2 linked regions of the Homo sapiens genome follow. Each later gene encodes a partner of the first gene's protein in a complex. Each region holds a gene or a part of one and is shown on either strand. Other genes may lie near its edges. The genes, in order: TRIM28 and SMARCAD1.

What was found.
Region 2: the proteins of TRIM28 (region 1) and SMARCAD1 are in contact, whole or in part, in a crystal structure (PDB 6H3A), measured with the Homo sapiens proteins. Residues at the interface, in NP_005753.1 of Homo sapiens: Arg330, Trp333, Thr334, Lys337, Ile338, His341, Leu376, Lys377, Ile379, Val380, Asp381, Val383; in NP_001362784.1 of Homo sapiens: Asp156, Leu157, Ala160, Lys161, Gln163, Thr164, Glu167, Leu168, Phe169, Asp188, Gly189, Ala190, Ala192, Leu196, Ala201, Gly202, Gly203.

The regions. Positions count from the first base shown.
Region 1 is NC_000019.10:58,539,142-58,547,304, forward strand, and holds the start of TRIM28 (transcription intermediary factor 1-beta), read left to right. Parts: upstream 1-4,922; 5' UTR 4,923-5,616; coding exon 5,617-5,956; intron 5,957-6,283; coding exon 6,284-6,396; intron 6,397-6,622; coding exon 6,623-6,755; intron 6,756-8,163. UniProt on the Homo sapiens protein: Nuclear corepressor for KRAB domain-containing zinc finger proteins (KRAB-ZFPs).
Region 2 is NC_000004.12:94,202,834-94,211,018, forward strand, and holds the start of SMARCAD1 (SWI/SNF-related matrix-associated actin-dependent regulator of chromatin subfamily A containing DEAD/H box 1), read left to right. Parts: upstream 1-5,031; 5' UTR 5,032-5,237; intron 5,238-5,250; exon of another isoform or gene 5,251-5,409; intron 5,410-5,512; 5' UTR 5,513-5,561; coding exon 5,562-5,751; intron 5,752-8,185. UniProt on the Homo sapiens protein: DNA helicase that possesses intrinsic ATP-dependent nucleosome-remodeling activity and is both required for DNA repair and heterochromatin organization.

The sequences.
Region 1 (8,163 bases):
CACCCTGCTTCCCTCCTCAGACAGGATTCTCCCCACACACACCCTGCTTCCCTCCTCAGACAGGATTCTCCCCACACAGAACCTGCTTCCCTCCTCAGACAGGATTCTCCCCACACACACCCTGCTTCCCTCCTCAGACAGGATTCTCCCCACACAGAACCTGCTTCCCTCCTCAGACAGGATTCTCCCCACACACACCCTGCTTCCCTCCTCAGACATGATTCTTCTCACACACACCCTGCTTCCCTCAGACAGGATTCTCCCCACACACACTCTGCTTCCCTCCTCAGACAGGATTCTCCCCACACAGAACCTGCTTCCCTCCTCAGACAGGATTCTCCCCACAAACACCCTGCTTCCCTCCTCAGACAGGATTCTCCCCACAGAGACCCTGCTTCCCTCCTCAGACAGGATGCTCCCCACACACACCCTGCTTCCCTCCTCAGACAGGATTCTTCTCACACACACCCTGCTTCCCTCCTCAGACAGGATTCTCCCCACACACACCCTGCTTCCCTCCTCAGACAGGATTCTCCCCACACACACCCCACTTCCCTCAGACAGGATTCTCCCCACACAGACCCTGCTTCCCTCCTCAGACAGGATTTTCCCCACACAGACCCTGCTTCCCTCCTCAGACAGGATTCTCCCCACACAGACCCTGCTTCCCTCCTCAGACAGGGCTCCCCTCCCCACACACCCTGCTTCCCTCCTCAGACAGAGTTCCCCTCCCCACACAGACCCTCTTTCCCTCAGACAGGATTTTCCCCACACAAACCCTACTTTCCTCCTCAGACAGGATTCTCCCCACACAGACTCTGCTTCCCTGAGACAGGATTCTCCCCACACACACCCTGCTTCCCTCCTCAGACAGGATTCTCCCCACACACACCCTGCTTCCCTCCTCAGACAGGATTCTCACCCCACACACCCTGCTTCCCTCCTCAGACAGGATTCTCCCCACACACACCCTGCTTCCTTCCTCAGACAGGATTCTCCCCCCACACACCCTGCTTCCCTCCTCAGACAGGATTCTCCCCCCACACACCCTGCTTCCCTCCTCAGACAGGATTCTTCTCACACACACCCTGCTTCCCTCCTCATACAGGATTCTCCCCACACACACCCTGCTTCCCTCCTCAGACAGGATTCTCCCCACACAGACCCTGCTTCCCTCCTCAGACAGGATTCTCCCCCCACACCCTGCTTCCCTCCTCAGACAGGATTCTCCCCCCACACACCCTGCTTCCCTCCTCAGACAGGATTCTCCCCACACACACCCTGCTTCCCTCCTCAGACAGGGCTCCCCCCACACACCCTGCTTCCCTCCTCAGACAGGATTCTCCCCACACAGACCCTACTTCCCTCCTCAGACAGGATGCTCCCCCCACACACCCTGCTTCCCTCCTCAGACAGGATTCTCCCCCCACACACCCTGCTTCCCACCTCAGACAGGATTCTCCCCCCACACACCCTGCTTCCCTCCTCATACAGGATTCTCCCCACACACACCCTGCTTCCCTCCTCAGACAGGATTCTCCCCCCACACATCCTGCTTCCCTCCTCAGACAGGATTTTCCCCACACAAACCCTACTTTCCTCCTCAGACAGGATTCTCTCCACACAGACCCTGCTTCCCTCAGACAGGATTCTCCCCACACAGACCCTGCTTCCCTCCTCAGGCAGGATTCTCCCCACACAGACCCTGCTTCCCTCCTCAGACAGGATTCTCCCCACACAGACCCTGCTTCCCTCCTCAGACAGGATTCTCCCCACACAGACCCTGCTTCCCTCCTCAGACAGGATTCTCACCCCACACACCCTGCTTCCCTCCTCAGACAGGATTCTCCCCACACACACCCTGCTTCCCTCCTCAGACAGGATTCTCCCCCCACACACCCTGCTTCCCTCCTCAGACAGGATGCTCCCCACACACACCCTGCTTCCTTCCTCAGACAGGATTCTCCCCCCACACACCCTGCTTCCCTCCTCAGACAGGATTCTCCCCCCACACACCCTGCTTCCCTCCTCAGACAGGAAGCTCCCCCCACACACCCTGCTTCCCTCCTCATACAGGATTCTCCCCACACACACCCTGCTTCCCTCCTCAGACAGGATTCTCCCCACACAGACCCTGCTTCCCTCCTCAGACAGGATTCTCCCCCCACACCCTGCTTCCCTCCTCAGACAGGATTCTCCCCCCACACACCCTGCTTCCCTCCTCAGACAGGATTCTCCCCACACACACCCTGCTTCCCTCCTCAGACAGGGCTCCCCCCACACACCCTGCTTCCCTCCTCAGACAGGATTCTCCCCCCACACACCCTGCTTCCCTCCTCAGACAGGATTCTCTCCACACACACCCTGCTTCCCTCCTCAGACAGGATTCTCCCCACACACACCCTGCTTCCCTCCTCAGACAGGATTCTCCCCACAGAGACCCTGCTTCCCTCCTCAGACAGGATTCTCCTCACACACACCCTGCTTCCCTCCTCAGACAGGATTCTCCCCACACACACCCTGCTTCCCTCCTCAGACAGGATTCTCCCCACACACACCCTGCTTCCCTCCTCAGACAGGATTCTCCCCACACACACCCCGCTTCCCTCAGACAGGATTCTCCCCACACAGACCCTGCTTCCCTCCTCAGACAGGATTTTCCCCACACACACCCTGCTTCCCTCCTCAGACAGGATTCTCCCCACACAGACCCTGCTTCCCTCCTCAGACAGGGCTCCCCTCCCCACACAGACCCTCTTTCCCTCAGACAGGATTTTCCCCACACAAACCCTACTTTCCTCCTCAGACAGGATTCTCCCCACACAGACCCTGCTTCCCTCAGACAGGATTCTCCCCACACAGACCCTGCTTCCCTCCTCAGGCAGGATTCTCCCCACACAGACCCTGCTTCCCTCCTCAGACAGGATTCTCCCCACACAGACCCTGCTTCCCTCCTCAGACAGGATTCTCCCCACACAGACCCTGCTTCCCTCCTCAGACAGGATTCTCACCCCACACACCCTGCTTCCCTCCTCAGACAGGATTCTCCCCACACACACCCTGCTTCCCTCCTCAGACAGGATTCTCCCCACACAGACCCTGCTTCCCTCCTCAGACAGGGATTCCCCTCCCCACACAGACCCTCTTTCCCTCAGACAGGATTTTCCCCCCACACACCCTGCTTCCCTCCTCAGACAGGATTCTCCCCACATACACCCTGCTTCCCTCCTCAGACAGGATTCTCCCCACACACACCCTGCTTCCCTCCTCAGACAGGATTCTCCCCACACAGACCCTGCTTCCCTCCTCAGACAGGGCTCCCCTCCCCACACAGACCCTCTTTCCCTCAGACAGGATTTTCCCCACACACACCCTACTTTCCTCCTCAGACAGGATTCTCCCCACACAGACCCTGCTTCCCTCAGACAGGATTCTCCCCACTCAGACCCTGCTTCCCTCCTCAGGCAGGATTCTCCCCACACAGAACCTGCTTCCCTCCTCAGACAGGATTCTCCCCACACACACCCTGCTTCCCTCCTCAGACAGGATTCTCCCCACACACACCCTGCTTCCCTCCTCAGACAGGATTCTCCCCACACAGACGCTGCTTCCCTCCTCAGACAGGATTCTCCCCACACAGACCCTGCTTCCCTCCTCAGACAGGGTTCCCCTCCGCACACACACCCTCTTTCCCTCAGACAGGATTTTCCCCACACAAACCCTACTTTCCACCTCAGACAGGATTCTCCCCACATGGACCTGCTTCCTTCCCTCCTTGGGATTCCCCACTGTTGAGGTTCAGTTTCCCCATCTGGAAAAGCATCAAAGTCAGGGTAGCTGCTGACGAAAACATGGGGAGGGGATGCCTTGGGGGGCTGGGTGGGATTTCACAGACTCATTGCTCTTTAGCCTCTTGTGATTTATATATATGTGTATATATATATATATATTTTTTTTCTTGATGGGGGGTTGGGGGGCCCGGCGTGGTGGCTCACACCTGTAATTCCAGCACTTTGGGAGGCCAAAGTGGGTCTATCATCTGACGTCGGGAGTTCGAGACCAGCCTGGCCAACGTGGTGAAACCCCGTCTCTATTAAAAATACAAAAATTAGCCAGGCGTGATGGCAGGCCCCTGTAATCCCAGCTACTCGGGAGGCTGAGGCAGAAGAATCGCTTGAACCCGGGAGGCGGAGGTTGCAGCGAGCCGAGATCGTGCCACTGCACTCCAGCCTGGGCAACAGAGCAAAACTCCGTCTCAAAACAAACACAAAAACCTTTCTCTCCTCTTTTGAGATGGAGTTTCACTCTTTTCTCCCAGGCTGTAGTGCAATGGCACGATCTCGGCTCACTGCAACCTCCGCCTCCCGGGTTCAAGCGATTCTCCTGCCTCAGCCTCCCGAGTAGCTGGGATTACAGGCGCCTGCCACCACGCCCGGCTACTTTTTGTACTTTTAGTAGAGACGGGGTTTCACCACGTTGGCCAGGCTGCTCTCGAACTCCTGACTTAAGATCCAACCGCCTCGACCTCCCAAAGTGCTGGAATTACAGGCGTGAGCCGCCGCGCCCGGCCACATTTTTCTCCATCTGTGGTCTAGGCTGGCGTGCAGTGGCACAATCCCGCCTCACTGCTGCCTCGGCCTCCTGGGCTAAACGGAGCTTCCCGACTCGCCTAAGAAAGTGGTGGGATTACAGGTATGAGCCACGGCGCCCGGCTGTGATCTACATTTGATTCAGTCAAGTTTCTGTGTTTCTCAAGTTTAACTATAGCGTGGTTAAAATCCAAAAGTCAGCACCCGAGCTCACACAGGAGCTTCCTCCCTCTTGGGATGGAGACTCTCCTCCCCTCTCCCTGGACACAGCCCTTCACTCGGTCTTGGCCCCGCCTACTTCTCCATCGGCCCTGCCCCCTATCCCGAACTCTTAGTGACGCAGAGGCTGGAGACGACTCTACGGCGGCGAAGAGACGCGGGTTGAGGAAGAGGGACGGATTGCCCATGCGCTTGGGCGCACAGCGGCCCGCTTCTGTGTGGTCTGGAGGTGGAGCTGAGAGGGGAATCACACTCTATAAAGGTTCGCATACCCCACTGGCGGATTCAATTGCGGCAGTGACGTCACAGAGGCCCCGCCCCGCCCCCACAAGAGCCCCACCGACGTGGGGTTGGCGGTGGTGGAAGGACTAGGAGTTGGCGCGTGCGTACTGGCGGCCTCTCCCGCACCGACCGGCCTGGGCCCCGCCCCCGGGCGTGAGGCGCCCAATGCGCGTGCGCGGCGGCGTCGGCGCCAGTTATTTCTGTCCCGCCCCCCGGCCTCGGCTCTTTCTGCGAGCGGGCGCGCGGGCGAGCGGTTGTGCTTGTGCTTGTGGCGCGTGGTGCGGGTTTCGGCGGCGGCTGAGGAAGAAGCGCGGGCGGCGCCTTCGGGAGGCGAGCAGGCAGCAGTTGGCCGTGCCGTAGCAGCGTCCCGCGCGCGGCGGGCAGCGGCCCAGGAGGCGCGTGGCGGCGCTCGGCCTCGCGGCGGCGGCGGCGGCAGCGGCCCAGCAGTTGGCGGCGAGCGCGTCTGCGCCTGCGCGGCGGGCCCCGCGCCCCTCCTCCCCCCCTGGGCGCCCCCGGCGGCGTGTGAATGGCGGCCTCCGCGGCGGCAGCCTCGGCAGCAGCGGCCTCGGCCGCCTCTGGCAGCCCGGGCCCGGGCGAGGGCTCCGCTGGCGGCGAAAAGCGCTCCACCGCCCCTTCGGCCGCAGCCTCGGCCTCTGCCTCAGCCGCGGCGTCGTCGCCCGCGGGGGGCGGCGCCGAGGCGCTGGAGCTGCTGGAGCACTGCGGCGTGTGCAGAGAGCGCCTGCGACCCGAGAGGGAGCCCCGCCTGCTGCCCTGTTTGCACTCGGCCTGTAGTGCCTGCTTAGGGCCCGCGGCCCCCGCCGCCGCCAACAGCTCGGGGGACGGCGGGGCGGCGGGCGACGGCACCGGTAAGTACGAAGTGATCGGTGCCACCCCTCCCCCTACTCTCTGCCTTTGATTCCGACTGGGTGCAGAGATGAGGATGCCACCTGGGCGAGAGGATGGGGGCCCGGACAGGGCACGGGAAATACTTTCTGGGTCCTGCATACGAACGTGGGTTTGTGCTGGCCGCTGAGATGGGACATCTGACTAAAGTTGGAGAAAAGAAGGCTCGGGGAGGGGAGGGGCTGGTTCGCTGCGGGATAATGGTCGGGGGCCCACCCAGCAGGGGAATGGTGGGGGCCATAACCTGGGTGGGAACTTGTAACAGTCTCCCACATCCCTGCTTCTCGAAGTGGTGGACTGTCCCGTGTGCAAGCAACAGTGCTTCTCCAAAGACATCGTGGAGAATTATTTCATGCGTGATAGTGGCAGCAAGGCTGCCACCGACGCCCAGGATGCGAACCAGGTGCGTCCTATCTCAGCAACCACAAGGAGGTTTCTGGGGAGGGGGCATCTGCGCAGGAGGAGCTTGGCACCAGCTCCAGGCTGTTACTCCACTTTCCCAAGGCTCTGGGTGGGCTGCCTAGGTTGGGTCAAGGGACCAATCTTAAATCTCCGGTTGTATTTTCTGGGATGTAAACGTGGATCTATCAAGTTGTCTTGCCTTCTCTGACCCTGCCTTTGTCTGGCAGTGCTGCACTAGCTGTGAGGATAATGCCCCAGCCACCAGCTACTGTGTGGAGTGCTCGGAGCCTCTGTGTGAGACCTGTGTAGAGGCGCACCAGCGGGTGAAGTACACCAAGGACCATACTGTGCGCTCTACTGGTACATGAGGCTGAGGGGGGCTGTTGGAGTTGTTCTCCCATGTGTGCCCTCAGTTGCTTTTATGATGTTGGTTGCATCTGGTGGATGGGTCCTAGAGTTCTCTAGGGGGTGCCGCCCGAAGGGCCCGAGGGCAGAACTCCAGAAGCAGAAAAACTGGGGTTGTGGTGTGTAGTCTCTAGGGCCTAGGTGGGAGAGGGTGGGAAGGGGAAATAAGGGAGACCTTAATGTGCTGCAGGGAGGTACAAAGGGTTTGAGAAGGCTTATCAGGGAGTTGTCAGACCTGGTGGTGAAGGGCTCAGCATATGCAAACAGGGAAAGGCATGGTGTGAAGGGCTTTCTGGGTTTGTGGTTCCCTGGCACACATCTGGTATAAGATGCTGCTAGGGAAAGTAGACTGTGGGTCCATGGATTATAAGTGATGATGATTTTTGGAAGTGTTTTAGCTTTTGAGTTGGCAGAGACTTACCCAAAGTTTGGTTTGGCATTTCCAGCTTTTCACAGACACAGCTAGCTTTGGTTTGGAAGGAGCTTGAGAGTCTTTTGAGTCTAGCCAAGTTTTGGGGCCAGAATCCTCCCATGAGTGGCCTTTTGGTAGCCATACTGTGATTCTTCCCATCCCAGAGGACAGCATTGGTGGAAGATAGCGGGAAGGTGGTGGCTGTGGGGCCTGAGCAGCCAGGAGGGATACGCAGGGGCTGCAGGGTGTCCTACATTCCAGACGTCCCAGGCAAAGGTCAGGGTGCAGGAATGAGTGGCATTGGGGAAGTCAGTTTCCCCAATGAGCCCTGATGCTACATATTTTGGATTTGGTTGGTATGTGGGACCAGTGTGTTTGATCAGTTTTCTAATGGGGAGACAGGCTTTGGAGGTTATTAATGGGTTGGTCTTTGGGTGGGATTATGCTGAGCACCAAGATTCTGCTCTAGAGGGGGTGTGACCACCATTCTGAGGGTCCTGGTTTGACATTTCATCTCTCCCAGTATGAGAACCTCTACAAGGTTTCCTCTGGGCCCTTGGATTGTAAGAGACCCTGGTGTTCTCTTGTCAGGGAAGAGGGAGGAAGTTAACCATGAAAGGAGAAGAAAAGGAATCCAGGGTGGTGTGTAGGCAGAATTCTGAGTATGTCCACTTGGAGAAGTGTTCAGTAAAGGGAACAGTGTGGGGAAGGGTCAGCGGGGGTGGGGGGTGGGGTGGGGTGGTCCTCTTTTTCTAGACGCTGTTATCCTTACCCTTACATTGTTGTTATCTCTAGAAGCTAGAAGAAAGGGATGTGTTTCTCAGCTATGTTGGGGCAGAGGATTCTGGGAGCAAGGAGTTGGGCTTGCAGGCCTGTGTTCTTCCCTGGCCACACCCTCTACATCTTCCCAATAAATGGCCCAGTGTCACAGAACAGGCCGGAAATGAGGCC
Region 2 (8,185 bases), on another chromosome or scaffold:
AACTAGAAGTTTGAATTTTTTTCTTCCACAAATGAATATTTGTGATCTAGAAAATTATTGAGTCACAATCGTTTTCCCCAAATCATTATAAATATTGCATCATTACTTTCTGACGTTTAACAAAAAAGCTTTTGCTTGATTTCTTTCCCTTTGTAGGCTGTAGATTTTTTCTGAAAAATGCTTGCAAGACATTTTTTAAATTCTTGAAATTAAAACAAATTCTGCAGGATATTTTTACTGTATAGTCTCTTTCAATTGATTCTGCCTGAATTCACTAAGCTCTTTCACATGCAGACTAAATGAAAGCCCATGAACGTTTTCTATTATGTTTTTCATTATTTCTTTTTTTTTTGGTATGTGTGTGTGAGTATGTATGATTGTTTACACCTATTATTCAAAGCTTCATTCTCACTTCTCTGAATCTTATATTTATCATTTCTTCATATTTCATTGTTTTTTTTTTTTTTTTTTTTGAGATGGAGTCTTGCTCTGTCACCCTTTAAAGCAGTGGCATGATATGGCTCACTGCAACCTTTGCCTCCTGGGTTCAGGCAATTCTCCTGCCTCAGCCTCCTGAGTAGCCAGGGCTACAGGCGTGTGCCACCACGCCTGGCTAATTCATTGATTTCATCTATTGTCTGCAACAGATCTTTCCTTCATGGCTTTCAGAATATACTAACTCTACCAAAACCTTGAGAGTGGAAATCTAGCCTCAGGGACCAAGAGAAAATAAATTTCTGTTGTTTCAGTCATCCAGGCTGTTAATATACCAGCCCTAGCAAACTAATACATACCCTTAAACTTCTACTTCACTTTCAAAGAGAACCCCAATCATGAATCATTATAATTCTCCCAGGTCAATGAAGGTTGCAGAAAAATCCTACCCTTAGAACTGGTCAAAAGGAGTCCCTATCCTGGTCTAGTGCTTTAAAGGGCAAAATCTAGTTCTTTCCAGCTATGCCCTGCCCTAAAGGAATCTTTGGGGCCAAGAAGACGTGTTCATTCAGAACTTGTGCCTTCACTTTTAGACAATAATTTGAGTACCTGGTCCCTAAAATTCTTTGCTCACACAGCCCCAAGAAGTCTAACAGTGACTTTTCCCGAGGTCCTTCCTACTGAGGGCAAACAGTGCTTTCAGTATCTATAACCCTAGGCCAAAAATGTAGCCAAAAGGCCCCAAGGTCCAAGAGGTGACAAAGGAGTGGGAGAGCAGTAAGTTTGCCAAATAAAATACAAGACAACTTGTTAAATTTGAGTTTCAGATAAACAACAAATAATGTCTTAGTATCAGTTCCAAGTATTTCATCAGACAAATTTATACTAAGAATGTATTCATTGTTTATTTAAAATTCAAATTTAACTGTACATCCCTTTTTTAAAAAAAACAAATATGGTAACCCTAGTTGGGGGCCAGAGTTGGGTGTCCATATGCTGGGCATCTATGTGCATAAGCACATGGCCCATTATGATATCGTTATTGATACCATTAGTATCAAATTGTGTATGAAAAGGTGACACTAGCAAGGCAGGATATATGAGCCAATCAATTCTCTTTCATTAACCCACATTCTGACACAATAGAAATTCTAAATTCAACCTGGCTTCCCTGGTATTTTCAAAATAGGAAGAACATATTTAACTTTTACACTTTGTTGGCTATATTTATAATGTTTAAATATTTAGACATTTTTAATTTATGTGGTTCATTTTCAATCTTGTCCCAGCTATAACGTCAAGAGGTGGTACTGTTGCAGAAAAGCACTCTAAGCGTCAATATTATTGTTAATCACATTTAAAGAATGATGAAAGTAAGACTTAGAAAGGTCATTCAGCTAGAGGAGTCCATTTTCAATGTCAGATCTCTCTAAATAGAAATCAAATTGTCTTCATCACCAAAAATAATTTACTACTTACAAGTAAATATATATTTTTTTCTTTTCTTTTTCTTTCAATCATGGCTCACTGCAGCCTTGATGCCCCCAACCCGCCTCCCCCCACCCCCACCACCAGGCCAACATGGCAAAACCCCATCTCTACAAAAAATGCAAAAATTAGTCAGGCATGGAGACAAGTACCTGTAGTTCCAGCTACTTGGGAGGCTGAGATGGGAGGATCGCTTGAGCCTGGGAAGTCAAGGCTACAGTGAGCCACAATTGAACCACTGAACTCCAGCCTGGGTGACAGAGTGAGACCCTGTCTCAAAAAAAAAAAAAAGAGAGATGAAGTCTCCCTTTGTTGCCCAGGCTGGTCTTGAACTCTTGGCCACAAGTGATCCTCCCACCTCAGTCTCCCAAAGTGCTAGAATTACAGGCATGAGCCGCTGTGCCTGGCCATAAGTAAATATATTCTTTGATCACATAATTTAATATGCATGCATAAAACTAATGCATTTCATGGGATATTAAAGATAGGTATAAAGGAAGTCCTAATTGTTCAGGCTTTGATCTTGAGTTTTATTGGCCCAGACACCTGATTTTATAAATGTGCCCACATTTGATAAAACTGTGGGTATGTGTTGTAAATATACAATTCACAACACTGACTTATAAAACAAACTGGCAATTTAAGTTTACAATGGCTAATATATCTGGCAGAATGATCATTTGTAGCAATTCCTCTTTATGGGAAATGCCAACCAGAAGCTCAAATTATAACTCAGAAAATTGCTTGTCTAATGTTGGAACAAAGGGAGTATATCTTAGTTTTTTGTTTTTTTGAGACAGGGTCTTGCTCTGTCACCCAGGCCAGAGTGCAGTGGTGCAAACATGGCTCACTGCAGCCTCGACCTCCCAGGCTCAAGTGATCCTCCTGCCTCAGCCCCCAAAGTAGCTGGGACTACAGACGTGTGCCATCATGCCTGGATAACTTTGTATTTTTTTTAGAGATGGGGTCTCACTATGTTGCCCCAGCTCTGCCTTGGCCTCCCAAAGTGCTGGGATAACAGACGTGAGCCACTGCTCCTAGCCCAGGAGTATATATTCTTTGTTTTTTTGAGATGGAGTTGCCCAGGCTGGAGTGCAATGGCGTGATCTCGGCTCACTGCAAGCTCCGCCTCCCTGGTTCATGCCATTCTCCTGCCTCAGCCTCCCGAGTAGGTAGGACTACAGGCGCCCGCCACCACGCCCGGCTAATTTTTTGTATTTTTAGTTGAGACGGGGTTTCACCGTGTTGGCCAGGATGGTCTCGATCTCCTGACCTCATGATCCGCCCGCCTCCACCTCCCAAAGTGCTGGGATTACAGGCGTGAGCCACTGCGCCCGGCCAGGAGTATATATTCTTAAGCTAACATTTCCATCAAGATAGGTGAATTATATGCAAAAGAAAGGAAATCAGTGTATCGAAATGATATCTGCATTCTCATGTTTGTTGCAGCACTATTCACAACAGCCAAGATTTGGAAGCAACTTAAGTGTCCATTAACAGGTGAATGAATAAGAAAAATGTGGTGCATATACACAGTGGAGTATTATTTCGCCATTAAAAAAAATGAGATCCTGTCATTTGCAACATGGATGGAACTGGAGGTCATTATATTAAAGGAAATAAGGCAGGCACAGAAAAAAAACTTGGTATGTTCTCATTTATTATATTTGTGGGAGCTAAAAAATTAAAACAATTGAACGTATGAGAAACGGTAGAACGATGGCTACCAGAGGCTGGGAAGGGTAGTGTGGGGCGGGGGAGGACCCCGGTGGTCGGTGAGCATGGTTAATGGGTACGAAAATACAGTTTGAATGAATAAGATCTAGTATTTGATAGCACAATAGCATGACTACAGTCAACAACAATTTATTGTACTTTTTTTTTTGAGACAAGAGTCTTGCTTTGTTGCCCAGGGTGGAGTGCAGTGGAGTGATCTCGGCTAACTGCAACCTCCGCATCCCAGGTTCAAGCTATTCTCCTGCCTCAGCCTCCCGATTAGCTGAGATTACAGGCGCCCGCCACTACGCCCGGCTAATTTTTTGTATATTTAGCAGAGACGGAGTTTCACCATGTTGGCTAGGCTGGTCTCAAACTCCTGACCTTGTGATTCACCTGCCTCAGCCCCCCAAAGTGCTGGGATTACAGGCGTGAGCCACCACTCCCAGCTTATTGTACATTTTTAAATGACTAAAATAACTGGATTGTTTGAAACACAAAGGATAAATGCTTGTTATGGATACCCCACTTACCCTGATATGATTATTACACATTGCATGCCTGTATCAAAATATCTCATGTACCCTATAAATATGTACACCTACTATGTACCCGCAAACATTAAAAATTAAAATATTTTTAAAAAATTAATTAATTAATCAAATTCCATTCTAAGAACAATCAAGCCGAAAGTGAGGAATTACTTTAAATGCTTTGAAGCTCAGCATCCCGGGGTTCTTATCCGTCACTAATTACCTATACATTTGCAGGTCTCAGTTTCTTTGCTTTGTAAACATAGGCTTCTTGTAAGGATTGGGATTATACACTGAAAAAGCTTAGCACAGTATTATTACTATTATGCTATCTACATTATATTATAGGTGAAACACTACAGATTATAATACATACAATATATACTAATTGTATTATATATTGTTATTTTTTGTCATTATGCTATTTACTATTGTTCTATTTAATAACTCTCTAGATAATTTAACAGGACAAAGGTACAGAACAATCTGGCCCTTACAAGCCGGCGGAGACGGGTACGAATTACCATGACAACAGCGCGCGCCTCGACATTGTCGGCTCGCGCGTTGTTTGGGAAGAAAAAGCCTAGGCTGCGTGTTGCGTCATCATTACGCGCTCTTAAGGTTTCTCCGTGGTGTTTTGGAAGGTCCCGGCACGGCTACCGTCGCCCCACGCTAGGAAATTTTTTTTTTATTTTCAACCTTTGTTACATAGCACTGAGGCTACAAGATCGTAAGTACTGAGGGAAGAAAGAACAAGCGAGCGATTGAACGTTAAAAAGATGCCTTAGCATGCACTCCACCTCTGAACCTTCCTGTGTGTTCTTAATCCTATCAGCTTCCTCTCAGCTGGGATCGCGCCGCGTCAACTTCCGGGCGGATGCCCGCCAGCACGGCCTCCGCCGCTCCCCTTCTTTGGCCCCTTTGTGTCCCCGCAGTGTCGAGGCGCGGGCCCTGGCAGGTCCTTTCTCGAGGCAGGGGGCACGGTAGCACAGGGAGCTTCTCTTTGTGGGCGGGCGCGAGGCCCGCTAGGGGGTTATACTGGGGAACGTGCCTGCGCGTGCTTGGGTAAGAGGAGGTTGCATGAGGGTCAGCTCGTGGTTTCAGTAAGGAGGGGCGGGCGGGGGAGGCGGACGAAGGGGAGTGAAAAGCAATGGAAAATTTTAAAAGATACCCCCGTCCACCTTCTAATTGTTGCGGCCTAACAATGAAGCGCAGCCATAACAGTCCTGAGCCACTGGCATGTTTGCGGGCCCTTTATTGCCTTGGGAATAAACTGCTGTGGCATTGTATCGTATATTGTTTTCATGGCCTTTTTTCCTCTCTTTATTTTTCCCCTGCAGATAGTTCATTTAAAGCCCCCATCCCTGCAAGGTGGTGCTTTCTACCAATATGAATCTTTTCAACCTGGACCGTTTTCGCTTTGAGAAAAGGAATAAGATTGAGGAAGCGCCCGAAGCAACCCCTCAACCTTCCCAGCCTGGCCCTTCTTCACCAATTTCTCTTAGTGCTGAAGAGGAGAATGCTGAAGGGGAAGTTAGCAGGGCAAACACTCCTGATTCAGATATAACTGAAAAAACAGGTGAGTTACAATGTTAAAATTGATGTAACATCAAGGACAGTTTTTAAAAGATGAAAGGCAGAAGGGATTCTCATTTTTATTCTTGATGTCATATATATTGATGCATTGTCCTGCGGTGTGCCCTTTTAAATACAGCTTTGGGACTGCCATAAGCACCATGTACCCTCAACTGAGCATCCATCCATTGTCGCCTCACTTTTATATGAGTTCTTCGAATATGGCCCCATGGTGGAAGTTGAAATTAGAATTTAGGGCATCCATAGGTCAGAACGGTTGCTATTGGAAGAGCGATGTCAGTGATTCAGTCCTATGATAAACTTTGAGGCTATTTGGGCAGACATTTTCATTCATTCCAGTATTCCCTCAAAATATTGATCATCTACTGTGAGCTAGACATTGAGCAAGGTGCCTAAAGACAACCTCTGTACACAAGGGAAGATCAGATCACATCAAGTTCTTGCATCCACCTGACTTCCTGGATGTCCTCAGAATGCAAATGAGTAATTGGTATTCTTCATGGTGAATGAACATTTTTAACCTCATCAGCAGATTGTCAGAGACAAAAGTATTTGAGGATAAGCCAAAAATTAAGATTTCCACTCGAATCTATGTTCATTGAACAGTTAACTATTAGAGGAATATATTTGAGCTCTTGTTGTATTATAGGAATAGTGATAAGTGCTTCACCTTCTGTCATTTAATTTGCACAATAATCCTACAAGGTAGATATTACTGACATAGAGGTTAATGTGAAATGAGATTCAGAGAGGTTATTAGGAACTTGGTAGAGCCTGAACTCAAGTCCTGGCAGTATGATTCCTGAGCATAAACTAATTAGTTAGTTTCTTAGGAAAGGTGAAAGGAATGTTGGAAGTTATATTTTAATATTTATTTCAGTAATATCTTTTTTTATGCAAAACTCTGTTTCGTAAACAGCTTTTAACTTAATGTAGCCTGAAAGATTGGTAACACACATGTTTATCCTTGGTATCTTTTTGTTTGCCACCCTTCTACTTAAATGTAATAATGATGGCAGATCCTCTGCAAGTTATCATTAGAATAACATTTTTAAATACTTTGGTGTAATTGGAAATTGGCAGAATGATTTGGTAGATTGGATTAGGAGTCAGATTTACAAAGGCTTTGTCTAAGTAGTTTTGAATTTAAATGCTATAGGGAACAACTGAAGGATTTTAAGCACCAGGATTTTAATCCCTGTGTTCACTCTTTGAATAGATATTTGACATCCAGGTATTTTAATGCTTTTCCAATGAATATATTTGTCTGTTTCCTCTGTAGTTAGATAGTTCAGGAAAGCCAAGGTGTAGACATGGGATTTCGAGTCCATAGAAGCTTCTGCTTCTTCATTTTTGTTAAATGTGGGACATTAGACAAGTCATTTGAAATCTGTGATCCACACTTTTTTCATCTCTGAAAGTGAAAGCAGTTTGTAAACTGGATTTCAGTGGAATGTTTTAGTTATTTATCAGTATTGGTCATGTGAAATCTTTAATTTCCTTTAGTGATCAGAAGATATTTTTCTGTTTTTATTTCTTTCTAATGATAACACTCATTTTCTCTTTATTGGGACTTTTTTCCATACATAAATTCTGCTTAAAAACTGAGATTGCTTTAGGAATTACATGATCAGCCTTGATGGCTTCGGGAAATAAGAAAACTAAGTTTGTTCTAGGAATGTTGAGAATTAATCCTTGTAGGAATGGAGCACTTTGCTTTAATAAAAGATTGTTTTAAATGATACTGTGAATTTTGGAGAATCTTGAAAACTGAGAAGTTTAGATTTTACATTGTAAGTATTAGATATCCATTGAAGAACTTACAGAGTGAATGGAAAATGGTGAAAGAAAGTTTTAAAAGTCAGTTTAGCAGTAGTGACTAGTACACACTGATTGAGGGTAGGGATTGAAGGGAAAGAAAACATTTAGGCAACTCCTGTAATTGAGCTTAATGATAGCGGTAGAAATGGAGAAGAAAGAGATATGAGAGGTTTCAAAGTAATGAAGGGCAGGGTTTAGATCCCTGATGGGAATGAGATAAGATGAATGGTAAGATTTTTATGCGCGGTGGCTGAAGCCTGTAATCCCAGCACTTTGGGATGCAAAGGTGGGCAAATCACCTGAGATCACAAGACCAGCCTGGCCAACATAGTGAAACCCCGTCTCTACTAAAAATACAAAAATTAGCCAGGCATGGTGGAGCGTGCCTGTAATCCCTGCTGCTCAGGAGGCTGAGGCACAAGAATTGCTTGAACCTGGGAGGCAGAGGTTGCAGTGAGCCTAGATCACACCACTGCACTCCAGCCTGGGGGACAGAGACTGTATCTCAAAAAAAAAAAAAAAAAAAAAGGTAAATGTCTTTAAGAATTCAAATAAGAATCGAAGGTCTGGCTGGGCACAGTGGATCACCCCTGTAA